Linked DNA regions of Homo sapiens. The protein of the gene in region 1 purifies or fractionates together with the protein of each later gene. This does not show direct contact. Each region holds a gene or a part of one and is shown in the gene's direction. Other genes may lie near its edges. The genes, in order: RPRD1A, POLR3H, CRCP, POLR3E, ANKMY2, PLIN3 and MYO6.

What was found.
Region 2: the proteins of RPRD1A (region 1) and POLR3H purify together in Homo sapiens (affinity purification with mass spectrometry, with the first as the bait; one large-scale study listed by BioGRID). This does not show direct contact.
Region 3: the proteins of RPRD1A (region 1) and CRCP purify together in Homo sapiens (affinity purification with mass spectrometry, with the first as the bait; one large-scale study listed by BioGRID). This does not show direct contact.
Region 4: the proteins of RPRD1A (region 1) and POLR3E purify together in Homo sapiens (affinity purification with mass spectrometry, with the first as the bait; one large-scale study listed by BioGRID). This does not show direct contact.
Region 5: the proteins of RPRD1A (region 1) and ANKMY2 fractionate together in Homo sapiens (co-fractionation; one large-scale study listed by BioGRID). This does not show direct contact.
Region 6: the proteins of RPRD1A (region 1) and PLIN3 fractionate together in Homo sapiens (co-fractionation; one large-scale study listed by BioGRID). This does not show direct contact.
Region 7: the proteins of RPRD1A (region 1) and MYO6 fractionate together in Homo sapiens (co-fractionation; one large-scale study listed by BioGRID). This does not show direct contact.

What each region holds. Positions count from the first base shown.
Region 1 is NC_000018.10:35,991,505-35,995,123, reverse strand, and holds part of RPRD1A (regulation of nuclear pre-mRNA domain-containing protein 1A), read left to right. Parts: intron 1-1,823; coding exon 1,824-1,973; 3' UTR 1,974-3,619. UniProt on the Homo sapiens protein: Interacts with phosphorylated C-terminal heptapeptide repeat domain (CTD) of the largest RNA polymerase II subunit POLR2A, and participates in dephosphorylation of the CTD by RPAP2.
Region 2 is NC_000022.11:41,530,425-41,534,925, reverse strand, and holds part of POLR3H (DNA-directed RNA polymerase III subunit RPC8), read left to right. Parts: intron 1-1,238; exon of another isoform or gene 1,239-1,952; intron 1,953-2,180; coding exon 2,181-2,267; coding exon of another isoform or gene 2,268-2,322; intron 2,323-2,768; coding exon 2,769-2,832; intron 2,833-4,037; coding exon 4,038-4,239; intron 4,240-4,501.
Region 3 is NC_000007.14:66,145,245-66,149,745, forward strand, and holds part of CRCP (DNA-directed RNA polymerase III subunit RPC9), read left to right. Parts: intron 1-198; coding exon 199-256; intron 257-4,501. UniProt on the Homo sapiens protein: DNA-dependent RNA polymerase catalyzes the transcription of DNA into RNA using the four ribonucleoside triphosphates as substrates.
Region 4 is NC_000016.10:22,303,573-22,308,073, forward strand, and holds part of POLR3E (DNA-directed RNA polymerase III subunit RPC5), read left to right. Parts: intron 1-1,583; coding exon 1,584-1,634; intron 1,635-4,501. UniProt on the Homo sapiens protein: DNA-dependent RNA polymerase catalyzes the transcription of DNA into RNA using the four ribonucleoside triphosphates as substrates.
Region 5 is NC_000007.14:16,603,761-16,608,261, reverse strand, and holds part of ANKMY2 (ankyrin repeat and MYND domain-containing protein 2), read left to right. Parts: intron 1-3,350; exon of another isoform or gene 3,351-3,412; coding exon 3,413-3,541; intron 3,542-4,501. UniProt on the Homo sapiens protein: May be involved in the trafficking of signaling proteins to the cilia.
Region 6 is NC_000019.10:4,846,512-4,851,012, reverse strand, and holds part of PLIN3 (perilipin-3), read left to right. Parts: intron 1-3,122; coding exon 3,123-3,322; intron 3,323-4,501. UniProt on the Homo sapiens protein: Structural component of lipid droplets, which is required for the formation and maintenance of lipid storage droplets. Required for the transport of mannose 6-phosphate receptors (MPR) from endosomes to the trans-Golgi network.
Region 7 is NC_000006.12:75,885,239-75,888,738, forward strand, and holds part of MYO6 (unconventional myosin-VI), read left to right. Parts: intron 1-765; coding exon 766-856; intron 857-1,605; coding exon 1,606-1,756; intron 1,757-3,500. UniProt on the Homo sapiens protein: Myosins are actin-based motor molecules with ATPase activity. Unconventional myosins serve in intracellular movements. Myosin 6 is a reverse-direction motor protein that moves towards the minus-end of actin filaments.

The sequences.
Region 1 (3,619 bases):
ATGCTCACTTCTCTATCCTGGTATCTACTATTTTACTGCTCTTTTCATGATCCTTTTCAACATTGGTGACATTTCTGCATTTTGCTATTAGCTCACTTCTCTTCCTTCCTGTGTGTACTGTGATTCTTAACCAGGAGAGGGACGAGGGTCATGCCATCTTTTGGGTGGATACATTAGAATCATGGGGGGTAGTGTGGTATGATGGAAAAGATAGAAAATCAGATAGATTCATTATATGTATATTTTTACTAAAACCACAAAAAATAAAGTTTGATGAAATCTTGGCTCATGGTAGATGTGCAGAAGAGTAGAGAAGGGAGGGGCAAAATGATTGAGAAACGTTGTAGATTATTTATATAAACCTAAGTGGCTCATACTCTTCTCTTGGTTTTAGCTAGAATTTGTCAGTTATAAAGCCTAAATCTTTATTTGTAGCTCAGAATACTGTAATCACATTTCCAAGTGCCTACTAGAAATCCCATGGATAACTCACAGTTATCATGCTTAAAAATGAACTCTGTATCCTTCTCCAAAGGAGTTTGTGCCCCTCTCTGCTATCTCAGATAACAGCTCCGATATCCACCTGCTTATGAAGCCTGAACCCTCATTATTCCTCACAGCAGAACCACAACCAATTCCTGCTGATTTTTCTTTCTAAACATTTAGTCTTTGACATTAAGGTATTATTTACATATAATGTAGTTTTTAAAGGACATTGCTCTATCCTTACTACTGTTGGTTTGGTTCGGTTCAGGCCCTAGTCCTTTCTTTCCTGGAGAGTTGCAGTAAACTCCTAGCTGGGTTTCTTCCTTAGATGTTTCCTCATCTATGCACTCTCTAGGATGGTCCTCTCAGGACTTACCTGTGACCACATTTGGAAAGAGCGTGAATCTCCCTGCCTTGTGCCATGCACTGTGGTAATAGTGAATTGCCATGGACATATCTATTTTACTGCCTGCTACTTCCTTAGACCAAATCTTTGAGTCAGGACCCTGGAACTGAGATGGGTATAGTGGGAAGCTTTTCTCTGAGTGATACCCTGTTGTGGGTGCTGAGCTTTTGGAGAAAGGGAGGGGTGCAGCAGCCTGAGGTTGTCTTGGCTTGCCTCTTCTGCTGTGGAGCCACCTTCCTCATGAGTTGGGGGTGAGGCTTATCAGGGCCCAAGTATTCTCAGTCCTCCACGCATAAGAAGGAACTTCTTTTCCAGGAGTGGGGGCTGGACAGGAGGGAGTCCCCAGGCTCTTCCCTGCTCTATCTCAGGACTTAGCTTCAGCACCAGGTAGTTGGGGTAGGATGAGAGGCGCTCTTTCTGGGAATAAAACCCTCCCACTGGGAGTTGCAGGGAGAGTGATCCTGTATTCTTGGCTGCAGCAGTCTGGAGTGGACCCTCCTTGCTTAGATGGGAGGGCACAGGAAGGGAGCAGTCCTGCTTCAGACACCACAGACTCTGGCCATTCCTACTGAGTTTTCATAGATGTTCTTGCCAAATTTTAGTTAAGGTTTATGAAAATAAATATGTAATTTTTCTTGCCCAAACTCAAGAATACCTGAACATCTTATATGTCGAGGTTAAGCACATTAATGTTAGTCTTCTTTCTACTGGTGTGAAGCAACAGCTAAAGATTGTGGTTTTTCTTAATAATAATAGTTTACTAGTTATATATTTCCAAAGCTCATCTTTTGATGTGAAAACTCACACTGGAATAACCTTTTTAAATATGGCATTAACTGAGTATATATAGTACCTGGGTTTATGTAGGTCATTATTAGCTAGGAAGTTTTTTCAATCCCTGAATGCTAATGAAAGTGGTTTGATGTTACAGGAGTACAAGCGCAAGCTAGCCAGAGTTTCCCTGGTGCGCAAAGAACTCAGGTCCCGGATCCAGAGCCTGCCAGACTTATCTCGATTGCCCAATGTCACTGGCAGCCACATGCACCTGCCCTTTGCGGGAGACATCTACAGTGAAGATTGATGGACCAGCCTCTTTCCAGGTCCCAGGACTTTGCAAGAGATGGAGACAGGTTAGGTGGATAGTCCTGTAGTGTTATTTTTGTATATTGTTGAGAAAGAAACACTAACAAAAGGAACAACGAGTAATTTATAAAATTGTTTAAAATGTTGGTTTGTTTACTATTTTATTGGTAAATTAACATGACTTAATTTGAACAAAGTGATGATTTGTGTGTATTAATAAGCTCACAAATAGTGATTATTTTCAAAAGATCTTTTTGTAAATTTTTTTTTTGATCCAAGGCCTTGTGAGAAATCTCTTGTTTGTATTTCTTCAGGTATTTTCAATTGTTTTTCTTTATTTTCTTCAGCATTTAATCACTGTATACTATGTAATTCCTGAAGGGGAAGAACTAATTAGGAGTTGATTGAGACTTTATTATGGTATAGTTAGGACTTGATTGTAGAAGGGACTAAATGTTCCAACATAATCTTTACCCTTCTCCCCAAACAAAATATCAATTCTGTGTCTCTACATGCCTTTGATTCCTTAGAGGTCGGTAATTTAACATAAAACAGGGATGTCACTTTGAGGGGCAGATGAAAGTCTAGAGAACTGTTCCTTAATAGCATTGTAAAAGTTCCATTCCAACTGCCAGTGTAGATTTTAAAAGTGTTAAATAGTGACTCCCTTGATTAAACTGTTTGTAATTATTTGAGTAGATTAATAATGAAAATACTTTGGAAATAATATACATTTTGACATTCTACCAAGAGGACAACTTTGGTTCTGGAACTGGTTTCTATTTGTCAAATCAGTTTCCTTTTAACATAATTAATCCCTTTAACAAAAAGCCGTCTATGGGATTAAAAGACACGTGAAATGATACTTTTATTATTCCCTTGCTCATATAACTTTAAAAATAATACTTTTAGCTCTAATAGCTCAAGAACACAATATTCGTTAATGTTCAGTAAAGTAGCCTGAGACATTTTCAATGTTTCCTTAAGGTTTTTGAATGACTGTATATTTGGCAGTTAAGCAGTGCCACACTACAGGGTAGATATGGTAAATTTTATATTTGTATATTTACAGTTACAAAACAAATGTACTTTTACCTTTTATTTCTGACCCTGTGTGTTAGAGCAGTTGCATGCTCTCCTGCTGTTAAAAACACATTGTTAAGCTGTGGATTTGTACTCAATAATGACTTAGGATAAACATTTATTTTCATTCATTGCTTTACATACTAGACATTTTTCTTCTCTTTGTAAGTAGATTCAAATTAGATAGTCAATAAAACATCTTGAAAATCCCACAAGCCAATTATGTCTCTCTAGTCTGAATGGCTTCATTGTTTCTTTCTCAGTATTAGAAATTATAGTTACAATGAATTGCATATGAAGAAGGCAGACATTTATTTTTAATAGCCAAGTAGTTCTGCAAATAGTTCTTTTAACAATTTGACCTCTCTCCAAAACAGAGACACATATAAGTAGTGCTCATCCATGCACTACTAATAATACATGGCTTATTCCAAAGTTTTTAGTCAACTTTTGGGACTTGGGGTGCATTTTCTCACAGAAAGAATAGTAGTTAGGTTCCCTAACACTACCGCTGATAGCTCACCTGGGAACTGAATCCACCTAACCATGAATGTCCTTCAC
Region 2 (4,501 bases), on another chromosome or scaffold:
CTAATTCCACAATTTTTTTTTTTTTTTTTTTTTGACAGAGTTTCACTCTTGTTGCCCAGGCTGGAGTGCAATGGCGCAGTCTCAGCTCACTGTAACCTCTGCCTCCTGGTTTCAAGCAATTCTCATGCCTCAGCCTCCCAAGTAGCTGGGATTATAGGCACCCAATACCACGCCTGGCTAATTTTTGTATTTTTTTAGTAGAGACGGGGTTTCACTATGTCGGCCAGGATGGTCTTGAACTGCTGACCTCAGGTGATCCGCCCGCCTCGACCTCCCAAAGTGCTGGGATTACAGACTTGAGCCACCGTGCGCGGGGCCATTCCACAGCGTTTTTATCACCCTACAAAGAAACCCCGCCCAGTAGCAGTCACTGCTAATCCTGTCCTTCACCCAGCCTCTGGCAGCCACTTAACTGCTTTCTGTCTCTATGGATGTGGTTCTGGACACTGTACATGAATGGAGTCGCACACTGTGTGGCTTTTGTGTCTGGCTGCTTTCACTTGGCCCCATGTGAAGGTTCAGCCCGAGGTTGAGCCACACTGTAGTGCATGTCAGAATTCCTTCCTTTGTAAGGCTGCATAATATTCCATTGTGTGTCTCCAGCATGTTTTGTTTACTCATCCATCCATGGGGGACTCCGGGTGCCCAGCATTTGCTTTTGGATGTGGTTGTTCCAGCCTGGGGCTCCCTGGGCGCAGGATCATGTGCTGTCCCACCCCCGTGAGCCCAGTGCCCAGACTGGGCCTGGCACAAACCTGGTGCAGGCTCTGTGAAGTTTTTTTTTTTTTTGAGACGGAGTCTTGCTCTGTTGCCCAGGCTGGAGCGCAGTGGCATGATCTTGGCGTACTGCAACCTCCACCTCCTGGTTCAAGTGATTCTCCTGCCTCAGCCTCCTGAGTGGCTGGGATCATAGGCACCTGGTACCACACCCGGCTAATTTTTGTATTTTGGTAGAGACGGTGTTTTATCATGTTGGCCAGGCTGGTCTCAAACTCCTGACCTCAGGTGATCTGCCCACCTCGGCCTCCCAAAGTGCCGAGATTACAGACTTGAGCCACCCCGCCCGGCCTCTGTGAGGATTTATTAAACCAAACTGAATGTTGGGCCATGTGGGGGACAGGGTTTTTCCATCTGTGCGTAAGTGGCCCTTGGCCGCCCTCATCTGCTCTCTGGGAGGTCAGCACAAGGCCCAGTCATCTTCATGGTGGCTGTGATGGCTCACGTTTGTGTCTTCCCAGGGTGAGAGGTCCATCGGCTGCCTCTCCTCATGCCCTGCTGATGCCAGGGTCCCTGCCGTCCTGGGGGGCATGTTGGCCGACTAAATGGTTGACGGCATCGTGGAAGCCTGTGTTTGGGATTAAACCTGTCTGAGGAAGGCAAGATTCGACCCGGTGGCCCTGTCTGGTGGGTACAGAAAGACCAGGTGTCTCCCCATGGCTATGTGGCTGTGAGTGGGTCACCCTGGCTCTGAGCCACTGCCTTATCCTCACGGTGGGAACTCTGTTGGTAACCAGCAGGGGGCAGCCGCGTGCTGATTCTCAGGTCAGCGTTGGACTCCTACTTTGGGGCTTCGAGCAAGGGCCTGAGTGACAAGGTGACATACAGCTAATGCCAGGGCCTGGGGTCAGAGTGTGCGATGTGGGCACAGACCCCACCTGGTGTTTTCCTTGCAGTCAGGTGAGTGGGGACCACCTGCAGCATGGCCTGAGAACCCACAGAGGCATTTTTGCTGGGCTGCTGGCCTGCGCCTCACAACACCAGGGCATTTTTAGCCTCCTCTCCAGGTCAGAGCTGTGCCTGGGGCCGACTTTGCTGCTCAGCAGGAGGTGGGAGTTTCCAAACCCTGCGTTCTTTACCAGTTGCTTCTGCCCTTTTTAGGAGCTGAAGGAGAGCCTGGAGGGAGGTTGAAATTGACTTTGGAGCCACTGATGGCTCAGAATCTGGGCTCAGGTGTGAGTAACCTGGCAGTTTTGGGAGTGCCCAGTTACAGGACAGCTGCTGCTGCCCCCCTGTGGGGGCCATGCTGTGAACTTGCAGGAGACAAAGGGAGGGTCTAGGCTTGCAGGGGGATGTGGCATGGAGCAGCCACACAGGCCCCCAGGTGTGCTGGCACCTGAGGGTGACATGGGAGCGCACTGGGGCCCCGGTCAGCATCACTGATGGGCTGTCTTCATTTCCAGTCCATTTTCGCTGCGTGGTGTTTCATCCATTCCTAGATGAGATTCTCATTGGGAAGATCAAAGGCTGCAGCCCAGAAGGAGTGCACGGTAACAGTGGCCCTGACGCCTCAGACAAGACTTGGGAACACTGTGGGGGCAGGAGGTCTGTGTCCACCCACATGGTCAGGGGAGGGCTCAGGTGTCGAGGCCGAACCTTCCCCGTGGTGTCAGAGAAGCTTGCCCACCCTCCCTTTTATGTGTTGTGTGAGGACCTCCATCAGCAGTGCGGTTTCACTGTGAGGCCGTCACTCAGGACTTCAGGGTGGGCACTGAAGCTGGCGGAAGTGACTGGGAGTCTTTAGCGCCCACTGGCCCCTGTTGTGTGCAGAGGTTTTGGGGACTAGGTGCTCCGGGCTTTGCCCAGGGCTGCTCCGCTATGTGGGTGGTGTACGCAGAGGCATTAGGTGGGGAAGGGGCCTAGGTTTCCACAGCGACATCCGCCTCGTGGGCAGCCCCAGGCAGGGCTTGCCTGTCAAGCATAAGACCCCGCAGTGTTTGGCGTCCACTGGGACCCCCATCTCAGGCCGTCACCTGCTTCCTTCCTTCCAGTCTCTCTAGGCTTCTTCGATGACATTCTCATCCCCCCAGAGTCACTGCAGCAGCCAGCCAAGTTGTATCCTCCAAGGGTTAAAGTGGTTTGTCACAGGGAGCTCAGGCCTCTCCAAAGGAAGGTCCCCACTCCTTAGGGTGGCCTTTGGGGCCTGTAACCTGATGTCACTGGCCTCTGTGCCTGCCCCTCGCCTGTGCTTTTGCTCCAGAGGCACCAGCCTGTCTGTGCCTCCCATGCAGGGAGTCATGTGATGCCCACATGCCTGTCTTTGTCGGGGCCATCAGGCTTGGCTGTCTGGGTTGTACACTGCACACCATTAGAGCTGTGGTGTCCTGGGGGACACCATTCACTTCCGGTTCACTTCACTTAGGTTGTCCCTGCAGGAATCATCTTAAAGATCACTTGCCCTGGAGGCATGCACTGGTCCCTGGGACGTGAGGCCTTGCCTGTGTGCCGGGTCGTGGGCTAAGATGTGTTCCTCCTGGGCCTCCGTTGTCCCTGTCCCACCCCTCACCTTGCTGTACTGGGGTTGTCTGTTTCTGTGGGGCTATCCACAAATCTGAGGCTCCTCACTGGGAAGGACTCTGACATGTCACAGCTGTACCCACGGTGCACAGCACGGGACCTGGCACAGAGGCAGGACCCAACAGTGGGACTGCCACCAGAGAACCCATGGCTCCCCTGTGTGGGCTCTGCCAGGGACGATGGAGAGCCAAGGGGGACTGCCCTGGCTGGGTGGCAGCACGGCTCTGGGTCTGCATGTGACTCCAGGATGTGTTAGAAAACCTGGCGCAGCCCGGCTGGTTCTCTCACCACCTGTCATCCAAGTGGGCAGGTGACCTCCCATCCCACTATGTCCTCTTGAAAACGGCAAGTCCTTGGGTGCCCATCAGCCTGTCACAAGGCTTTGATGAAAAGGGTGTGTGGGGCTCCGTGGCAGGAGGCCCAGGTTGCTCTTGTCTTGAGAGGTGGGACTCGGACCCTGTCTCGTCCCCTCCTGCTCTGGTGCTCTGAGATCCATGTGCGTCTGGCCGTGGTGCCTGGCTGGGGACCCCATGTTCCCCTTCCTGGGTCCTGGCCTCCAAGAGCGCTTGTTCCTCTCTGTTTGGCCCAGGCCTTGTGCATGGGGCTGGGACCTGCTTTTCCTGTGACTTCCCAGCCACAGTGATCTCACCCTGAGATTGGTTTTTCCTGCGGGGTCGGGGAGTGGGTGCTGAGGGAAGCCCCTCCCACTATCTGGTTGCTGCCTTGACCCTGGACCCCCTCAGCGACGAAGCGGAGCAGGTGTGGGTGTGGGAGTACGAGACGGAGGAAGGAGCACACGACCTCTACATGGACACCGGCGAGGAGATCCGCTTCCGGGTGGTGGACGAGAGCTTTGTTGACACGTCCCCCACAGGGCCCAGCTCAGCAGATGCCACCACTTCCAGTGAGGAGCTGCCAAAGAAGGAGGCTCCGTACACGCTTGTGGTGAGTGGCTCTGATGGTGCTGAAGCCCCCATGAGGCGGGAGAGCCGGAGTGCAGGGCTGGAAGCTGTGTCCTGGGGCTTCTGCTCTGGGATCTCCCCCAGCAGGTCAGGGATCCTGTTTGGGGGGTCTTGGCTGGTCACTTCTCCCTGGAGAGCCTGAGTTTCTGTAGGCCAGGGCTGTGAGGCAGTAAAGGTACATGGCTGCTGGTGGGGTGGGCGAGTCAGCTTGCAAAGGGGACAGAGCTCACGGTGGACAAGACCAC
Region 3 (4,501 bases), on another chromosome or scaffold:
CCCATTCGTACCGTGGGCTGGGAGTCACTCACATACACGCTCCTGTTCCCATTCTCTCGATTTACAGTTGAAGGAACTGAGGGCCACACTCCAGTGGTTCTCCCATTTTTTATCTGGCAAATTATTCTCTGTGCAGCTCAGTCAGGACTCAGGACTTAGGGCTATGCGAGTTGTCAACGCTGTACTTTCCCTCCACAGAGCTGAGAAGCTCCAGCTGCTGAACCACCGGCCTGTGACTGCTGTGGAGATCCAGCTGGTGAGTGAAGGGCGCCTGTGCTGGGGAGGCTGCTGTGGGTCTGAGATGTAGAATGGCTGTGGTGGACAAGCCAGGAACTGCGTTTTTTTTAAGAGGCTGCCCAACCACTCCATTTCTTAAGGAAAAAGAGACCTTGCCAGTTTGATCCTAGTTAGTGTGGACTTAGGGACCACAAAACACTGGAGGAGATTTCATTCCTCCTCTAGGGTTTTGGCTGATGACTTGGCGGCTCTCCGACTCCCCTGATGTCCAGGCCATTCTGGCCATTGCTTCCCTGTAGGCGTTGTTGCCAACCAGATGTTGCATAAAAAACATGAAATTCAGCATGTCTCTGGTGAACATTCTCTGTCCCCACGCCCACCCTTCACCCTGCTCTTGCTTCCTCTCTTTCTGGGTGAGGGGAGCATGTGTGCGCTGTCCCATCAGCTCCCTTCCTTGCTCATCTCCTGGCCTGGCCTCCCACGCCGGAAACCTGCAAGCCATTCTCTTCCTTTCATCTCACAGTCAGGGAGTCCCCAAGTTCTGTTGCTTCTGTCTTCGTTCTTGCTTCTCTCCCCCGTGTACTGCGTTGATTTCTGCCATTATTTCTTCACGCGGCTCTTGCGGTTATCCTCTCCCCATTCTCCCTGGCTCCCCAAGTCCATCTCCCACATCACCGTCAGAGATCACATCTAAAACCATGAATGTGATCCCATTTCCCTGCATAAACCGTTTATTTAGTACAGCCTCATCACTTGTGAAGTCCGCTTTGTACTGAGAGCGTAGGCTTTGGAATAGGAGGAGGCAGCCAGAGTAGAGGGGCCTACGATGGGATAAGGGGCCCGGGAAATGATCCAGGGAGATACCCGGGCCACCACTGGGCACGCTGTGGCCGCTGCCTTCTTATTACAGGGCAGAGAGCATCGGTACCTGACAAGTGTTAAGCAGGCCGTCTAATTGCCAGTTTAAAAAAAAAAAAGAAGAAGAAACTTTAGAGAATTAACAAAATGAGAATAAAGCAGTTTCCAAAGTCAGTTTTAGAAATACTTAGCTCTTTGTCAAATTTCCTTTAGAAAAGTATGGAAGAAAATGGTCAAAAATACGATTTTTAGAGTTGCTAATGGAAAAACTTTTTAAAAGGCCACAGGGTATTTAATTTTTTACTAAATTGTTCATTGTCTTCCTAGGGTTGTTTTTGCCCTTCAGAATGTACCCAAAATTAAATTAGAACAGTTCCTTTCATGAAGGGTGCCTTTCTCTGGGAACCCGCCTGTAGGCTAAATAGAAACCCCTTTCTCATGTGTCCTGATTATTTTCATGCTTTACACTGTATTGGAGTTTCAACCTAGAGCTTAGAGGAGAGAAAAAACAAACAGAACAGCAAGAAACGAATCCCTGTCCCTCTGGGTTAAAGATCATATGTCATGTCTCCTCCAGCTTTAATCAGCAACATATGTTACTCATGGCTTAATGACAGGCAGAGAGAAGAGATGAGGATTAGTGTGACCTCAGCCAGAGCCTGTGGAAAGTGGTATCATTACTTGGGGGAAGATTTGCTGCTATTGAGAGTGCCTGGGGTGGGCCGGGCGCGGTGGCTCATGCCTGTAATGCCAGCACTTTGAGAGGCCAAGGTGGGCAGATCACCTGAGGTCAGGAGTTCAAGACCAGCCTGGCTAAAGTGGTAAAACCCCATCTCTACTAAAAGTACAGAAATTAGCTGGGCATGATGGTGCACACCTGTAATCCCAGCTACTTGGGAGGCTGAGGCAGAATCACTTGAACCCGGGAGGCCAAGGTTGCAGTGAGCCAGGATTGCACCACTGCACTCCAGCCTGGGTGACAGAGTGAGACTCCATCTTGGGAAAAAAAAAAAAAAAGAGTGCATGGGGTGTGCCAGACACGGTCTCAGTCCTTGGTCCTGGTGCCTGTGATTGTCTGTCACTTCGAATGCCCGCCCCATAGTCTTGGAAGGGGGCAAGTGTCCTCTCCATTTTAGCCCAGAGGGCTGGTGAGTGGCTGATTGGGACCTTCTGATTCAGAAGCTTTACTTTGCTCCTCCAAGCCAGGTACTTGTGCTTGATGAGAAGAAAGATGTGTGTGGCATCCCCTGAGATGGTTTCCTTCTCGTTTCTACAAAGTAGGTAGGCCTTGGTAGAAACTGCTGTTTCTCAGTAGTTGGACCATTTTATAGCCAGATTCTTCCCACTCTGGAATTTGGCTACAAAAGGTAGCAAATTGTTTACCAAGGTTTGTAGCAGTATCGCTTCTCACCAGAGTGAATAAGAAATGAAAGCTGTGGCCGAACATGGTGGCTTGCGCCTGTGATCCCAGCACTTTGGGAGGCCAAGGTGGGAGGATTGCTTGAGGCCAGGAATTCAAAACCAGCCTGGGCAACATAGTAAGACCCCATCTCTACAAAAAATGAAAAAAATTAGCCAGGTATGGTGGCGCACACCTGTGGTCCCAGCTACTCAGGAGACTAAGGTGAGAGGATTGTTTGAGCCCAGAAGTTCAAGGCTGCAGTGAGCTATGATAGTGCCACTGTACTCCAGCCTGTGTGACTGAGCAAGAACCTGTCTTTTAAAAAAAAAAAAGCAAATGGCTGGGCACGGTGGCTCACGCCTGTAATCCCAGTACTTTAAGAGACCGAGGTGGGTGGATCACCTGAGGTCAGGAGTTTGTGACCAGCTTGGCCAACATGGCGAAACCTCATCCCTACTAAAAATACAGAAATTAGCTGGGCATGGTGGCGGGCACCTGTAATCCCAGCTACTTGGGAGGCTGAGGCAGGAGAATCGCTTGAACCTGGGAGGCGGAAGTTGTAGTGAGCGAAGTGTAGTGAGCGTGACTGCACTCCAGCCTGGGCGACAAGAGCGAAACTCCTTCTCTAGAAAACAAAAGGAAATAAAAGGTTTCACTTACAGTGGCAAGCACAAAGGACTTGAGTGAGAAGTTCCCTATATTAACACTAGAGCCATTTTTTCTCCCTGGGTTCAGAAAACAGTCCCAGCATCCAACATTTATTAGCATTCACTTGGAAGCCAGGTGTCTTTTGGAGGCTGAAGCCTCACCTCTTCAGTTACGCCTGGGCTGTGATTTGCTGTGGCCCTCTGATGACTGCCTGCTGACTCAGAGGCTCGGTGAGGAAATGAGGTGGCCACCCAGCTTAGGACTTGTTGTGCCCGGTTGTGTATTGATTTGGAATGATTTGTGAGCCCTCCGGCCTGAGGTCAGTGAATCCTGTGACCTCACAGGCCACTGCCCTGAACAGCACTACCATCTAGGCCTGTTAGTGATTTCGTGATTATGAAGTCTTGACTCATATAGAGCGTTATTGCTTGTAAAACACTGTTACATGTGTTCTCCTTTTGTCCTCGCTGTAGGCGTTACTTTCATTTTACATTAGAGAAAGTTGAAATTTAGAAAGCCAGATTCAGTGAACTGTTCTGGATCAAATATTTAATAGTATACATTGTTGCTATCAGATCTTTGAATCATTTTGAGGAAAGTAGGACTTTAGGTTTGGCGACTTCAAGTTGCCATTTTTGGAGGTCGGCAACCCGGTTTGATGCTCCTGGGATTGAGATAATAAATGTATCATTTATGTTAACCCAGCTGTTGATACTTTGGATTTTTAAGTTTTATTTCCCCTTATGTTCTCAACTACCTGAAATGGTTGGTATCTGAGAACCTTGAGATGGTGCTTTGAACTTTACTTCTTTATTTGGACTGTTTCTCCTGTGTTGGAAAGAAAAGGTGAAAGGCCGGACACAGTGATTCATGTCTATAACCCCAGCACTTTGAGAGGGTGATGTGAGAGGATCACTTGAGCCCAGGAGTTCAAGACCAGCCTGGGCAACCCCATCTCTACAAAAAATAATAAAAAATAATTAGCTGGACATGGTGGCACATAGCTATAGTCCCAGCTACTTGGAAGGCTGAGGCAGGAGGATTGCTTGAGCCCAGGAGTTTGAGACTGCAGTAAGTGATGATTGCGCCCAAAGAATAAAGCAGGGAAAGGAGGGAAATAGCCAAGATTTGATTATTTAACCTGGAGAAAAGATGATCTCCGTTTGAGAAAATAATGTGCAGAAAAGAATTTTGCTAAGTTCACTAACGGCCGGAGCTTTTATCAACATCCAATCCTCCTTAATTACAGTCAAGACCTTTTTTTTCAACCTAAGGTTCCCAGTCACAGGAAGAAACCCTAAGCTGCATTAAACTAAATGAAATATAAACAAAAAAGAAACTTTCAGAAATAAAAAA
Region 4 (4,501 bases), on another chromosome or scaffold:
AATGGGCTGTGGGCAAGACTGATGAGGCAGGAGTCTCCGGGTACAGGCAGTGGGAGGCAGATTTCCCTTTTTTTTTTTTTTTTTTGGAGACAGAGTCTTGCTCTGTTGCCCAGGCTGGAGTTCAGTGGTGCCATCTCGGCTCACTGCAACCTTCACCTCCCAGGTTCAAGCGATTCTCCTGCCTCAGCCTCCTGAGTAGCTGGGATCACAGGTGCCCATCACCACGCCCGACTAATTTTTTTTTTTTTTTTTTTTTTGAGGCGGAGTCTCACTCTGTCTCCCAGGCTGGAGTGCAGTAGTGTTATCTTGGCTCACCGCAGTCTCTGCCTCTGGGTTCAAACGATTCTTGTGCCTCAGCCTCCTGAGTAGCTGGGATTACGGGCGCCCGCCACTACACCTGGCTAATTTTTGTATTTTTAGTAGAGATGGGATTTCACCATGATAGCCAGGCTGGTCTCGATCTCCTGACCTCAAGTGATCACCCACCTTGGGCCTCCCAAAGTGCAGAGATTACAGGCATGAGCCACCATGGCCGGCACAGGTTTCCCTTCTTAGAGAAAGCTGTTGATAGTCAAACTCACCTTTCAGAATCCTTTTAACCCAGGACTTAGACCTTTGGAAGGCAAAAGGCAAAAAGTAACTGCATCTGCCTTCAGCCTCCTTATATGCGGAGCCTGACCTCCAGTGGGAAGGGCAGGGGCAAGGAGAAGGTCCTCGGAGATGAATAGAGGTGGTTTTTCCTTGCTTGGGGGATGTTGCTAAGTTATTAGATGTGAGTTATTTAGATGCATTTAAGCTGCATCTACACTGCAGTAGCAGGAGTTACAACAGGGGGGTTGGTGATGGGATAGAAGAGTCCAAGGGACTCCGAGGACAGAGGCAGTGCCCTCTGCAGCCAGGGGGCCTGGAATGCTTCCTGCCCAAGTTGTGCCTCAGCCAAGTCCTTGGAGGAGCGAGCAGTCAAGGCTCAGGGGAGGCATGTGTGAAGGGCTCTGTAGGTATAGGGAAAAGCATGTGCAAAGGCCCAGGGGTAGGAGAGCATGTGGTTTATAGGAGGAGTTAGGAAGCAGGAAGGTAAACTGCTGCGTGGCGGGGTGGGGGTGGTTAGTGTTGGGAAGAAAGGAAGTGGAGCCATCAGTCACAAAGGGCCTTGCAGACCCCTTAAGAAGGGGTGACAGGCTGGTCCAGGAGGGGCAGGTGGAGGGCCCAGCCAGGAGGCACAGGCCTAGGTGAGCCCTCGCCTGCCTGCCTCTCAGAAGAGCATTTGCCCAGGCTGTAGGACGTTTCCCGATCAGTGCAGCCCCAGGGAAGATGTGTGCTTACTGGGGGATTGTGAACTTGGGTGGGGGTACCAGGTGAACTCTTGCCCTGGTTCCCCTGGGAGCTTTCAGGAGGGATTCCTGAATATACCCAGTGTGCAGCCTTGGATCCGCTTGCTTTTAGCATGAGCTGAGCTATTTCCTCCTTCCCCAAACTGCTTCCCTGAGCCACTGCCCTTAACTGAAGCTGGAAGCGCTGGCATAGCCCGGGGAGGTCAGCACTGTGTCCAGTCTCCCGGTTAAGTCGTCTTCCCTTCTTCCCAGATCGATGTGTACTTGGCCAAGAGTCTGGCGGAAAAGCTGTATCTATTTCAGGTAATTATGGGACTTGAAGGTAAAGAGGGGAGAAGCAGGTGTGGGTGGGTGGTGTGGACTCAGGAACACGGGCAGGAAACGATGGGAAACCTCAGCTAGGGTTCTCGGTGTGGAGAGTGTCATGGGGTCTCTTTGCTTTCGTGGGTGGGTTAATATTGGTCTCATTTCAAAGATGGGAAAACTGAAGGAACACAGGAGAGGCAGAAGTGTGCAGCAGTTAAAGCTGGGGCTCTGGGGTCAGACCGGATTGAGATCCAACTCCATCACACCATAGCTGCGAGACCGTGGGCAAGTTTCTTAATCCTTCTGTGCCTCACTTTCCTCACTTGCAAAGTGGTGATGGTGATAATGCCTGCCTCATAGGTCCCCAGGAGGACAGGCTGAGTCCACAGTGAAGTGTTTAGGATGCCGCCTGGCAGAGAGTTGGTGCCAGTGATGATGGCCGCTGTTGTCATGGAGGCTCCAAGGGGCAGCTCCATGGCAGCGTCTGTGAGCCCTCAGTCCTGCCAGCTGCGAGGGCCCCGGGTTGCTACCTCTGCCCCCTCCCCTTGCTGCTGGGCCAGCAGCTTGTCATTGTGGCCAACATGTATTGAGCATTGACCGTATGCAGACTGTTGAAAGCATTTACCTCAGTTACCTCTTTAACCCCACAATAACCCTATGGTGGTGATTATTACATTTTATAACCGATATATTGAGATAGAATTTACACACCACACAGTTTCCCCATTTCAGTGTGTAATGCAATGGATTTTAGTCTACTCATGGGGCTGTGCAACCAGCGCCACAGTCTGTTTTGGGACAGTTTTGTCCCCCTTTAAAGGAACCCCTTGCCTATTAGCGATCAGTCTGTGCCCCCCATTCCCACCTCCAACCCCAGGCAACCATTCCCCTTATTTTCTGTTTATGGTTTTGCCTATTCCGGACTTTTCACATAGCTGGAATCATGCAGTATGTGGCCTGCTGTGATTGGCTGCTCTCACTTTGCATGATGTTTTCAGGGCTCATCCACATGGTAGCTATAGCCTGCATCAATATTTGAGCTTTTCTTTTTTTTGTTTGTTTGTTTTGAGACACAGTCTTGCTCTGTTGCCCAGGCTGGAGTGCAGTGGCTTGATTGCGGCTCACCACAACCTCTGCCTCCCAGGCTCAAGTGATTCTGCCTCAGCATCCTGAGTAGTTGGGACTACAGGCACGCGCCACAAGCCCGGCTAATTTTTGTATTTTTAGTAGAGATGGGGTTTCACTATGTTGGCCAGCCTGGTCTCGAACTCCTGACCTTGTGATCTGCCTGCCTCGGCCTCCCATAGTGCTGGGATTACAGGTGTGAGCCACCGCTCCCAGCCAATATTTGATCTTTTACTGATGAATAATGTTCCATTGTATGGGAGACCACAGTTTGTTTATCCATTCATCAGCTGATGGGTATTTGGGTTATTTCTACTTTTTGGCTATTATAAATAATGCCACTGTGGACATTCACATAGAAGTTTTTATGATGAACGTGAATTCTCATTTCTTCTAGGTATATGCCTGGTAGCAGAATTGCTGGGTCTGCGTTTAGCTTTTTGAGGCACTGCTGGGCTGCTCTGCCCCATGTTGCCTTCCCACAGTTAGAGTCAGTGTTCATATCCCATGATGCACATGAGAACGTGAGGCACAGGGAGGCCTTCACGGGCACGGAGGCCTGGGGCATGCCACAGCAGCAATGTTGTAAGCCTGTGCTGGGAGGGCCTGGCCTCCACTCCCTGGGGTTCACCCTTATGGGCCGTGGGAATGGGGCCTGTCCTGTGTGCCTGCTCACCCTGTTTCCTTGACTGGCTGCAAAGTGATGGTGGAGGTGCCAGTGACCCCCGTGTGTCCAGAGTTCCAAACCCTGAGCCACCATCGGCTCTGTTTGCCTCCTCCGTGCTCACAGCGGCCTTGGGAGGTGAGGATGCTTAGCCTCAGGGAGGCGAGGTGCCTGCCTGAGTCCACAGTTAGCAAGGGGAAGGATGAGGACTGGAAGCCAGGCCTGTGATTTCAGAACCTGCGCCCTTCAGCCTTCCCACCCCCAGTCAGGTGATCTCAGAACTGCCCCCAGCCCCAGCCCAGGAAGCAGGGAGGAGTCACGGCTTTGCTGTGTGAGTGAGCTTTTAGGAAATGACCGTCTCCTTGCGCTAGAATGTAGCTGATCTGAAAGGGCCTATTTTCCGCACTGCCATACCTCCACCAGGCTCATTCTACAGGCTGTCATGAGACCAGGCAGAGCTTTTGAGGAGGGGTCCAGACTTTGACTCCTTCACCTGAGAGAGAGAGGGACAGTGTACTGTGAGGACAGATGTGGACAGGAGCCCCTGCGTGTTGAGCGCATTGCTGTGTGAGCCATTCACATAAAGATAAGAGCGGGCCATGGCTGCCTGGCTCCCTTTTCCAGCATCTTGTGAGGAAGCTCACACAACCAGATAAGGAGAGCGAATGGATTCACGAATTCCCACCTGCCCGTCGTCTGGCCTCAGCAGTGAGCAGCACGTGCCGGTGTTGCTTTCACTCTTTGCTTCCTCATGGACTCCTTTTGGTCGTCCTTCTCTCCCCGGATGGCCTGTCCACTGGTAGTTAGGCCCTGGACCCCCATCCTCACCTCCCATGGCCGTGCTCTGTGGGTTCCTGGAGCAGCAGCGTGCCGGTTTGGGTTCCTGTGTGTAGACACGTCCCTCGGAAGTCAGAGACATCCTGCAGTGGCCCTTTGGAAGGAGGCCGTGGGGAGCTGATGAGAATAGGGCTGCGGGTGGAGACTGGCAGGGGTGCCTCATGGTAGGGCTGGGCAGCTTGTACCCTTGTGGTAGGGTAAGGCCAGTCTCTGCTTGGGGTGGGCTTGGAGATAGCTG
Region 5 (4,501 bases), on another chromosome or scaffold:
CAAATGTGTCTTGGCAGCACATATCAAAGCCCAACCAACCATGAATTAAATAGATGAGGGTTTATGTATTCACATATACATAGATGCCCAAAGGTAGGCAGACTAGGTCTGGCATAGTGACTTAAAAATAGTTTGGGGACCCAAACACTTTCTCATCTTTCCCTTCCAATATTCCTTAGCTGTGTAGGTTCTCATATGCATACTTATGATCTCATGGTTACGAGGCATTTGATGTTCCTCCTCCAGCTCACATTCCTATCCCAGGCAGGCAGGAAGAGCAAAGGGGTCTATATCTGGAAAACATAAGCTCTCCCAGAAGCCCTCTGCCTGTGTCACATGACTTTCCTTAGCTACACAGGAGTCCAGGAAAATTTTTTTTTTTGGCTTTTCTAAACACTCCTCCTCTGAACAAAATTACACTTCTGTTACTGAGGAAGCTGGGAGAATTGATATCAGAGAAGCAACTAGCAGTACCTGTTATGTGGGATTTCCAGCACTCACAAATGGTTGCTGACCTTTTACCTTCCTGGGAAAAAACAGAAAAACTAAAACAGCAACCCAGAGTTCTTTAAAAAAAAAAAAAAAAAAAAAAAGCAGGTCAATATTGTGGTCAACAAGTTATCCTAGCTCCATATAATAGAATAATGTAATTAGAGTTTATAGAGTATAATTATTATTATTTTTATTTATTTATTGAGGGGGGTCTTGTTTTGTTACCCAGGCTGGAGTGCAGTGGCGCAATCTCAGCTCATTACAACCTCAGTCTTCCGGGTTCAAGCGATTCTCATGTCTCAGCCTCCCGAGTAGCTGGGACTACAGGCACACACCACCATGCCCGACTAATGTTTCTGCATTTTTAGTAAAGACGGGTTTTCACCATGTTGGCCAGGCTGATCTTGAACTCCTGACCTCAAGTGATCTGCCCGCCTTGGCCTCCCAAAGTGCTGAGATTACAGGCGTGAGCCACCGTACCCGGCCTAGAGTATAATGATTAATGTTTATCCCAGTGATCTGAGTCATCAAGAAAAGGTTTATAATAAAGTTAAGATAGTATTTAATGCATTTTAGAAAGACTTTTCTTTAAACATTTTTGTTCTTTGAGAGTTTTATGTTCTTCTGTCTGGAAGACTTCATCCCAAATGCCTGTGATTGTGCGTATCACAGCCATTGTTTACTGCCTAATTGGTTTTCATATTCTGCAAGTTCTAACCCTCTGAAGTGATGCCCAACCTTTTCCCCGCATACGATGGTTCTCAGGGCTGGCTGCTGTGAGCTTCACTGTGTTGTTTTCTGACAGTGCTAATGCCTGGGCCCTCCTGCTCAGCTTTTGGTTCCCTCTGCTGCTGTGGAACTCTGGCTTCTGCCTGTCTCAAGGCTCAGCACAAAAGAGAATTCGTAGCACTTTCATGTGAAAGCAGACCCAGTCATTATTATTTGTATTCAAGAAGAACATGGTAGTTTCAAAATGAGTGCTACTTTTAAAATACTTCTTGAATCTTTGAATATTTTCTTTGACTATCTTGAGTATACAGAACAGTGTAGGACATTGTTACCAGGTGATATTTTTAAACCTCTATTATGTACAGTTGGTAAGATAATATAAAAACAAATATTCTTAGGAAGAAAAAGCAAATACTCAAATGAAAATGAAAATTATAAAGAGTGTCAAAATGCTGGTTTGGAACAAATGAACAAATTTGAAAAACTCAGAACAAAGAACTATTAGGAGTAGGTAAGAAAAATAGAAACGCTGTGATTATTTTTTGCTAAATAGGTTTTAGTAGCATCGTCTCAGACAGATAAATGCTTACCCTTATAATTTTTTTTTTTTTAAATACAAGGTCTTGCACTGTCACCAAGGCTGGAGTGTAGTGACACGATCTCGGCTTACTGCAACCTCTGCCTCCCGGACTCAGGTGATCCTTCTGCCTCAGCCTCCCAAGTAGCTGGGACTACAGGCGTGCCACCATGCCTGGCTAATTTTTGTATTTTCAGTAGAGTCGGGGCTTCACCAAGTTGGTCAGGCTGCTCTCAAACTCCTAACCTCAAATGATCTGCCTGCCTTGGCCTCGCACAGTACTGGGATTACAGGCGCTAGCCACCACACCCAGCCCCTTATAATTTTCTTTGTAAAAAAAGTTTATAGGCCAGGCGCGGTGGCTCATGCCTGTAGTCCCAGCACTTTGGGAAGCCAAGGCGGGCGAACCACGAGGTCAGGAGTTTGAGACCAGCCTGGCCAACATGGTGAAATCCTGTCTCTACTAAAATTACAAAATATTGGCCAGGTGTGGTGGCTCACACCTGTAATCCCAGCACTTTGGGAGGCCAAGGCAGGCAGATCACAAGGTCAGGAGATCAAGACCATCCTGGCTGACACGGTGAAACCCCATCTCTACTAAAAATACAAAAAAATTAGCCGGGCGTGGTGGCGGGTGCCTGTAGTCCCAGCTAGTTGGGAGGCTGAGGCAGGAGAATGGCATGAAGCCAGGAAGCAAAGCTTGCAGTGAGCAGAGATCACACCACTGCACTCTAGCCTGGGCGACAGAGCGAGGCTCCGTCTCAAAAAAAAAAAAAAAAAAAAAAAAAAGTACAAAAAATTAGCTGGGCGTAGTGGCGGGCGCCTGCAATCCCAGCTACTGAGGAGGCTGAGGCAGGAGAATTGCTTGAACCTGGGAGGCGGAGGTTGCAGTGAGCCAAGATCGAGCCACTGCACCTCCAGCCGGGTGACAGAGACTCCATCTCAAAAAAATAAAAATAGATAAAAATTATAAATATTTTTTAACCTATTTTAATTTTCCATTGCCCACTAGTAGTAAGTTTCACACATTTGGTTTTTCTTAATACTTTGATTCAATTGCTGCATGTGTGTTTCTTAACAAATTTGGAACATACCAATTATAATGGTGATAATTTATTTGAATTACAAGCCAACATCAAGTAAATGAGTTTAAATATATTGTCTTTAAAATACTTAGATTGTACTAAACTTTTCAGAATTAAGACAGTTAAACATTTTTGATGTGCCCTATAATTGTCTCATGGAATATGAATATTTTCTGGATGTCAGTTCTCAGAAAAAAATTCTGCTCTGGAGTTATTGTCCTAAATCTGAAACGCTATGGGCTTACTGAATTATCCTTATTGGAAAAATACTTTTTTTCTAGATTAAGGGTGTTTTTTTCTCTTTAATTATCTGGACATATGACTGACTTTTCATATGTTTTGTACAGAAAATGGTATATTCTAAAAGATTTTTGTCATTTTGTCTTAAAGCCTGTGTAATCTATAGCCTTAATGATTTCTTCCTTTTTGTGTCACATTGTAGGACGGCAGTGTCCGTGGGCTGATACCTCTGTAGTGTTTCCATGGTGATTTCAGAATTTGTTTTTTCTCCTCTTCATGCCCACTCTAGGGTTCTGATCCCACTGCATTCTCCGTCCTTACCCAAGCCATCACTGGCCAGGTGGGTTTTGTGGATGTGGAATTTTGCACTACCTGTGGAGAAAAGGGAGCAAGTAAAAGATGTTCAGTTTGCAAAATGGTAAGAATGGAGTTCTTTTTATTTCATTGACCTCTGGTTTAGATGCAGCCAAGCTGATGATTGAGTTTTAATATTCTGTAAGAGTGGACATTAGTTTTCTAATAAATTCTAGTAACGAAAATATTCTATTTAATACTTAAAAAGTAGTTTTGGAAAAGAATTAATAGGATCAATATAGTTCTTTACTGTGTCTGTCTTCTGCTAAACTGCCAGTCTTCCTTTGCCTCTTTGCTGATCACCTCATGGAAAGAAAGGATATGAATGAATGAATATGAGAAAATAAGAGAAAGGTTTTCCGTGGGGCACGAGACCAAGGCTGGTGCAGATGTGAAACCTAGAATAGGACAGTTCATAAATATACATTCTTTACTCTTCTGATGTTGACTTTAATGACAGTGTCTTCATCAACATATCCTTGTAAAACTATAGTTTCTGACTGTTACCAGTCTTTAATCCCTATGGACTGTACTGCCCCCTTCTGCCAGAATTATCTTTGTAAAAGGCATATCTGATTGTGTTGTTCTCATATCCAGATACTGGACACATGCATGTGTCCGTACATTCACTTAATCCCATAGGTAGCATCAACTGCCTGTTGACTTTAAGGTTGAAATTCTCCAGCATGTTGTATGAAACCCATTATAATCTGCTGTGACCTACTTCTTCAGCTTCATCTTGTTTAATGACTTACTTCTCTGAACCTGTTTCCTGAATTAAATGAAATTCCAGAATTAAATCAAACTATTTATATTGGTTAATTATTACTGCTTATAAAAACACACTCAAACTCAGTGCTTAAAATGATAATCATTTAGTCTTTCTCTCACAGTTGTGGTTGGCTGTTCTCAGCTGGGGCAGTTGTGCTCCATGTGACTCTCATCCTTCTTGTACTAGCAGGCTAGGCTGAGCATGTTGTCATGGCAATAGCAAAGGTACACATGGGCAGGTAGAAACACAGAA
Region 6 (4,501 bases), on another chromosome or scaffold:
TTCTTTATTTAATTTTTGGTAAAGACGGGGTCTCCCTCTGTCATCCCAGCTGATCCAGAACTCCTTGGCTGGAGTGATCCTACTGCTTTAGCCCCCCAAAGTGCGGGGATTGGGATTTTTGCAAATAAGTAGCTTAGGATATAGGCAGGGCGCGGTGGCTCAGCCTGTAATCCCAGCACTTTGGTGGGCCGAGGTGGGCAGATCACCTGAAGTCAAGAGTTTGAGACAAGCCTGGCCAACATGGTGAAACCCGGTCTCTACTAAAAATACAAAAATTAGGCCGGGCACGGTGGGTCACGCCTGTAATCCCAGCACTTTGGGAGGCCAAGGCCGGGCGGATCACAGGTTCAGGAGATCGAGACCATCCTGGCTAACACAGTGAAACCCCATCTCTACTAAAAAAAAAAAAAAAAAAAAAAAAAAAATTAGCCGGGCGTGGTGGCGGGTGCCTGTAGTCCCAGCTACTCGGGAGACTGAGGCAGGAGAATGGCATGAACCTGGGAGGCGGAGCTTGCAGTGAGCCGAGATCATGCCACTCCACTCCAGCCTGGGCAATAGAGCTAGACGCCGTCTCAAAAAAATAATAATAATAAAATAAACATTAGCCAGGTGCGGTGGCAGGCGTCTGTAATCCCAGCTACTTGGGAGGCAGAGGTTGCAGTGAGCCAAGATTGGGCCGCTGCACTCCAGCCTGGGCGACAGAGTGAGACTCCATCTCAAAAAAAAAAAAGCATGGGTACAGTAGGAGCAGGATTAAATAAATACATGCAGCTGGGCGCAGTGGCTCATGGCTGTAATCCCAGTACTTTGGGAGGCTGAGGCGGGTGGAGGTTGAGGTCGGGAGTTCGAGACAAGCCTGACCAACATAAAGAAACCCTATCTCTACTAAAAATACAAAATTAGCCAGGCATGGTGGCGCATCCCTGTAATCCCAGCTAACTCGGGAGGCTGAGGCAAGAGAATGGCTTGAATCTGGGAGGCAGAGCTTGTGGTGAGCCAAGACTGCGCCATTGCACTCCAGCCCAGGCAACAAGAGTGAAACTCCATCTCAAAAAAAATAAAGGCCAGGTGTGGTGACTCATGCCTGTAATCCCAGCACTTTCGGAGGCTGAGGCAGCTGGATCACATGGTCAGGAGTTTGAGACCAGCCTGGCCAACATGGTGAAACCCCATCTCTACTAAAAATACAAAAATTAGCCAAGCATGGTGGCACATTCCTGTAATCCCAGCTACTCAGGAGGCTAAGGCAGGAGAATCACTTGAACCCGGGAGGCGGAGGTTGCAGTGAGCCGAGATCATGCCATTGCACTCCAGCCTGGGCAACAGAGTGAGACTCTGTCTCAAAAAAATAAATAAATAAATAAATAAGTAAATAAATACATGCATATACACATATGAACCTACGAACATGGGATGAGGCCAGGCGTGGTGGCTCACACCTGTCATCCCAGCACTTTGGTGGGAGGATTAGTTAAGCCCAGTAGTTCCAGACCAGCCTGGACAACATAGACCCCATCTCTACAAAAAATTTAAAAATTAGCTGGGTGTGCTAGTGCACGCCTGTAGTCCCAGTTGCTATTTGGGAGCTGAGACAGGAGGATCACTTGAGCCTGGGAGTTCAAGGCTACAGTGAGCTATGATTGCACCGCTGCACTCCAGCCTGGGCAACAGAGCGAGACTGTACTTCAAAATATAAAAACCGACAAAACAAACAGATCTAAACATAGAAAAGGTACAGGAAGCCAGGTGCAATGGCTCACACCTGTAAACCTAGCACTTTGGGAGTCTGAGGCGAGCAGATTGCTTGAGTCCAGGATTTCAAGACCAGCCTGGGCAACATAGTGAGACCCCATTCCTACAAAAAGTACAAAAATTAGCCAGGTGTCTTGCCGTAGTCCCAGCTTTATGTAGTCCCAGCTACTCGGGAGGCCAAGGTTGAAGGATAGCTTGAAGCTGGGAGGTTGAGCCTGCAGTAAGCTGAGGTCGTGCCACTGTACTCCAGCCTGGGCAACAGACCGAGACCCTGTCTAAAAAAAAGAAGAAAAAGTACAGGAAAAATACGGTATATATGGTATTATAATCTTATGGGACCACTGTAGTATATGCAGTCCATTGTTGGCTGAAATGTCATTATTCTCTTTTTTTTTTGAGACGGAGTCTCACTCTCACCCAGGCTGGAGTGCAGTGGTGTGATCTTGGCTCACTGCAGCCTCCACCTCCCGGGTTCAAGCGATTCTCCTGCCTCAGCCTCCTAAGTAGCTGAGATTACAGGCTAGTGCCATCACGCCTGGCTAATTTTTGTATTTTTAGTAGAGATGGGGTAGTGCCATGTTGGCCAGGCTAGTCTTGAACTCCTGACCTCAAGTGATCTGCCCGCCTTGGCCTCCCAAAGGGCTGGCATTACTGGCATGAGCCACTGCACCCGGCCTACGGTATTATAATCTTATGGGACCTCTGTAGTATATGTGATGTATTGCTGGCTGGAATGCTGTTATTCTCTGCAGGACTGCATAATGAACATTCAGGCCTATATTCACAGGTTGTCCAAGGCAGGTCTGGCCTGCAGGCCATAGCTTGAGACCCTCCTGCTAGTCTAAGGTCTCTGATTCCTGTGAGGTTTAATTTTCCTTATCCCCGTTTTGCAGATAGGGAAAACCAAGGCAGAATCCTTTGCTCCCAGGCCTTCGAGGTTTATAAGAAGTAGAACTGGGTTATAAACTGGACAGCATGGCCAGGTGTGGTGGCTCACGCCTATAATCACAGCACTTTTGGAGGCCAGTTCGGATGAATCACTGGAGATCAGGAGTTCGAGACCAGCCTGGCCAACATGGTGAAACCCCGTCTCTACTAAAAATACAAAAATTAGCTGGGCATGGTGGCGGGCGCCTGTAATCTCAGTTACTCGGGAGGCTGAGGCAGGATAATCACTTGAACCCGGGAGGCAGAGGTTGCAGTGAGCCGAGATGACACCACTGCACTCCAACCTGGGCGACAGAGCGAGACTCCATCTCTAAATAAATAAATAAATAAACTGGACAGTGTGATTCTTGGGACTGTCTGCATGGGACGAGCCCAGCTGTGTGTTCTGGTCTTCACAGAGACCCTTCTCCTTTTCCTTGCAGCCCGCATCGCCACATCCCTGGATGGCTTTGACGTCGCGTCCGTGCAGCAGCAGCGGCAGGAACAGAGCTACTTCGTACGTCTGGGCTCCCTGTCGGAGAGGCTGCGGCAGCACGCCTATGAGCACTCGCTGGGCAAGCTTCGAGCCACCAAGCAGAGGGCACAGGAGGCTCTGCTGCAGCTGTCGCAGGTCCTAAGCCTGGTGAGGTTCCAGGGGGTCGGGGCCCTGAGCCAGCAGCCTTCACCCCGCAGCAGACACCCACCCAGAGCTCAGTGGCTTATTGCTCACCCCTCTGCAGGCTGGCAGGGCCATTCCCGCTTGCTCCTGGCACTGTATCTGGTTGTACACTCATTTGCTCAGGATGCTGCCACAAACCACACTGTCTGGGGCCGGGCACAGTGGCTCACACCTCTTTGTGTGAGTCCCTCAAGTGCTTTGGGAGCCCAAGGCAGGAGGATCGCATGAGTCCAGGGGTTTGAGACCCACCTGGGCAATATAGCAAGACCCCATCTCTACAAAAAATAATTTAAAACAATTAGCTGGCTGTGGTGGTGCGTGCCTGTAATCTCAGCTACTTGGGAGGCTGAGGTGGGACGATTGCTTGAGCCCAGGAGTTGGAGGCTGCAGTGAGCTATGATTGTGCCACTGCACTGCAGCCTAGTCAACAGAGCAAGACCCCATCTCAAAAAAAAAAAAAAAATCGTGGCCAGGTGCGGTGGCTCATGCCTGTAATCCCAGCACTTTGGGAGGCTGAGGCGGGTGGATCACGAGGTCAGGAGTTCAAGACCAGCCTGGCCAACATGGTGAAACCCCATCTCTACTAAAAATACAAAAATTAGCCAGGTACAATGGCAGGCACCTGTAATCCCAGCTACTCAGGAGGCTGAGGCAGGAGAATCGCTTGAACCCGGGCGGCAGAGATTGCAGTGAGCCGAGATCATGCTACTGCTCTCCAGCCTGGGTGACAAGAGTGAGACTCCATCTCAAAAAAAAAAAAAAAAAATTCGTACTGTCTGGGAAATGTAAACAACAGATATTTATTTTCTCACATTTCTGGAGGCTGGAAGTCCAAGATCAGAGTGTCCTTCTGGGGCCTCTCTCCTTGACTCGTAGACAGCCATCTTCTCTCTGTGTATTCACGTGGTCGTCCCTTCCCTCTGTGTATGTCTGTGTCCTAATCTCTTTTTTTTCTTTGAACGGAGTCTCGCTCTGTTGCCCAGGCGGGAGTGTAGTGGTGCAATCTCAGATCACTGCAACCTCCACTTCCCGGGTTCAAGTGATTCTTGGGCCTCCACGTCCCGAGTAGCTGGGATCACAGGCACTTGCCACCATGCCTGGCTAATTTTTGTATTTTTAGTAGAGATGGGGTTTCACTATGTT
Region 7 (3,500 bases), on another chromosome or scaffold:
AAATGTTAAAACTGGCTGGGCGTGGTGGCTCACGCCTGTAATCCTAGCACTTTGGGAGGCTGAGGTGGGAGGATCACTTGAGGTCAGGAATTCAAGACCAGCCTGGCCGACATGGCAAAACCCTGGCTCGAATAAAAATACACAAATTAGCCCAGCATGGTGTGTGCCTGTAGTCCCACCTCACCTACTCAGGAGGCTGAGGCATGAGAATCTCTTTTTTTTTTTTTTGAGATGGAGTCTTGCTGTGTCACCCAGGCCGGAGTGCAGTGGCACGATCTCAGCTCACCGCAAGCTCCGCCTCCCGGGTTCACGCCATTCTCCTGCCTCAGCCTCCCATAGCTGGGATTACAGGCGCCCGCCACCATGCCTGGCTAATTTTTTGTATTTTTAGTAGAGACGGGGTTTCACCGTGTTAGCCAGGATGGTCTCAATCTCCCGACCCTACGATCCGCCCGCCTTGGCCTCCCGAAGTGCTGGGATTACAGGCGTGAGCCACCGCGCCCGGCCGAGAATCTCTTGAACCTGGGAGGTGGAGGTTGCAATGAGCCAAGATCATGCCATTGCACTCCAGCCTGGGTTGAGACTGTCAAAACAAAAACAAACAAAAAAGGTGTTAAAACTTTGTTTTTGATGTCTGATATATAATAATATGGTCGTCAAGATTTCATGTTTCTTGAGCATTACTTTGTGAAAATGAGTTTTTTTAATATATGTTAGATTTAAACTGAATAATTTTCTATCATTTTATTTTACTCTTACACATAGTGAAAAACAAAATAAAATATCGAGCTGAAGCCTGCATTAAAATGCAAAAAACTATTCGAATGTGGCTTTGCAAGAGGAGACACAAACCTCGGTAAGATGAATAGTTCCTAAAAAGAACTCTACAAAACCTAGTTACTGTAATACAAAATGACAATAAAGTCATAATAAAAAGCAGTTTGGATACTCAGGTTTTCTCATGTTCTTTGTAAAATGATGTATTAGTCTTTTATTTGTAATATTTATTTGAAGTTAGTTAATTCATTTATTACCTTATTACTTGCCTCATTCTATAAAAGGATTTGAAGTGGCATACAAAAATGTGTAAAGACTATAAAACAAGAAGTAAGTAGTTGAGAGAAGCTCTTTTATTCTGATTATTTTAGTTATTTGAGTTTCTTGATAATGTCAAGGTGACATTTTTTAAAAAACATCTCACTAATATGTTTACATAATTTTCAAGATTATCTGTAGGAATTACATTGTCCCATTATAAATTAGTGTATTTCTTATTTGAATCTTTCATTTTTAATTTACACTTTTAAAAATTGGAAGTCTGAATATCTCTATTGATCCATCACACCTTTTCAAAGAGACTAGATTAATTTCCTCTGTGATTTGAATTCTCAAAGTTGTAGAAGGCTTTAATCCCATTGACAGGCATCAGTGTCATTCACACTCATATTTGATTTTTTTTAGCCTTCAACAAGAGATCTGAAAAAGAGAATAGTAGATAATATTGAAAACAGAAGTGAAATACCCTGTTTAGCATTTTATAAATGAAAAATCTGCCAAAAGTACTAAAGGATGAAATTAAGCTCTAATGAAGTATTATTTTTACAGCATTGATGGTCTGGTTAAGGTGGGCACACTGAAAAAACGACTTGATAAATTTAATGAGGTAGTCAGTGTGTTGAAAGATGGAAAACCCGAGATGAATAAACAGATCAAGAATCTGGAAATTTCTATTGATACTTTGATGGCCAAAATTAAGGTATGTAATTTCAACCCGAATGACTTTGACTTTTTATGTAATTTAATATATTTTGTTATTGGTATTGAAATTGTATAGAAAACGTCCTTAGTTTTTCAAAATTACAAAATGTGTTGAGACTCAATGATGGCAAGTACATGCTCATCATTATTACCTCTACTCTTTATGTTTGAAAAATTTCATAGCAAAAAGTTAAAGAAGACAATTTTTATGCCATTTCTTCTGTTGCTAAGAAAGATATCCCTCGCAACTTAATACCTAGGTGATGGGATGATCTGTGCATCAAACCCACCATGGCACACGTTTACCTGTGTAACAAACCTGCACATCCTGCACGTGCATCCCTGAAATTAAAATAAAAGTTGGAGGCCATACATGGTGGCTCATGCCTGTAATCCCAGCACTTTGGGATGCTGAGGCGGACGGATCATGAGGTCAGGAGATCGAGACCATCATGGCCAACATGGTGAAACCCTGTCTCTACTAAAAATACAAAACTAGCTGGGTGTGGTGGCGTGCACCTGTAATTCCAGCTGCTTGGGAGGCTGAGGCAGGAGAATCGCTTGAACCTGGGAGGCGGAGATTGCAGTGAGCCAAGATTGTGCCACTGCACTCCAGCCTGGTGACAGAGTGAGACTCCATCTCAAAAAAAAAAAAAAATGAAAAAAGAAAACTAAAGTTGGAGCAAAAAGAAAATGGCCGGGCACGGTGGGTCACGCCTGTAATCCCAGCACTTTGGGAGGCCGAGGCAGGCGGATCACAAGGTCAGGAGATTGAGACCATCCTGGCTAACATGGTGAAACCTTGTCTCTACTAAAAATACAAAAAAAAAAAATTAGCCAGGCGTGATGGGGGGCACCTGTAGCCCCAGCTACTTGGGAGGCTGAGGCAGGAGAATGGAGTGAACCGGGGGGGCGGAGCTTGCAGTGAGCCGAGATCGCGCCACTGCACTCCAGCCTGGGTGACAGAGCAAGACTCCGTCTCAAAAAAAATAAATAAATAAAAATAAAAGTGGTGGGGCATGGTGGCTCCTGCCTGTAATCCCAGCACTTTGGGAGGCCGAGGTGGGCGGATTATTTGAGGTCAGGAGGTTGAGACCAGCCCAGCCAACATAGTGAATCGCCGTCTCTACTGAAAATACCAAAGTTAGCCAGGTGTGATCGCACGCGCCTGTAGTTCCAGCTACTTGAGGCAGGAGAATTGCTTGAACCCAGGAGGCAGAGGTTGCAGTGAGCCAAGATTGTGCCACTGCACTCCTGCCTCAGCGACAGAGTGAGACTACGTCTAAAAATAAATAAATAAATGATAAAAGTAATATAATACTATAAAAAATTTGGAGGCCAGATGTGATGGCTCACACCTGTAATCCCAGCACTTTGGGAGGCCCAGGCGCAGGGATCACCTGAGCTCAGGAGTTAGAGACCAACCTGATCAACATGGCCAAAACCTGTCTCCACCAAAAATACAAAAAATTATTTGGGCATGGTGGTATGAGCCTGAGGTCCCAAGGAAGCTGAGGTTAGAGGATTGCTTGAGCCTAGGAGATGGAGGTTGCAGTGAACAGAGATTGCACCACTGCACTCCAGCCTGGGTGACAGTGAGACCCCTGGCTAAAAAAAAAAAAAAATTGGAGAAACCACCAAAAACCTCTTAATACCTCCACATTAACAAATTCAGTTAGTTACTGTTATTTTTACAGTATAATTTTACTTGTTTTTACTTTACCTTACATTCTCTTTTATGC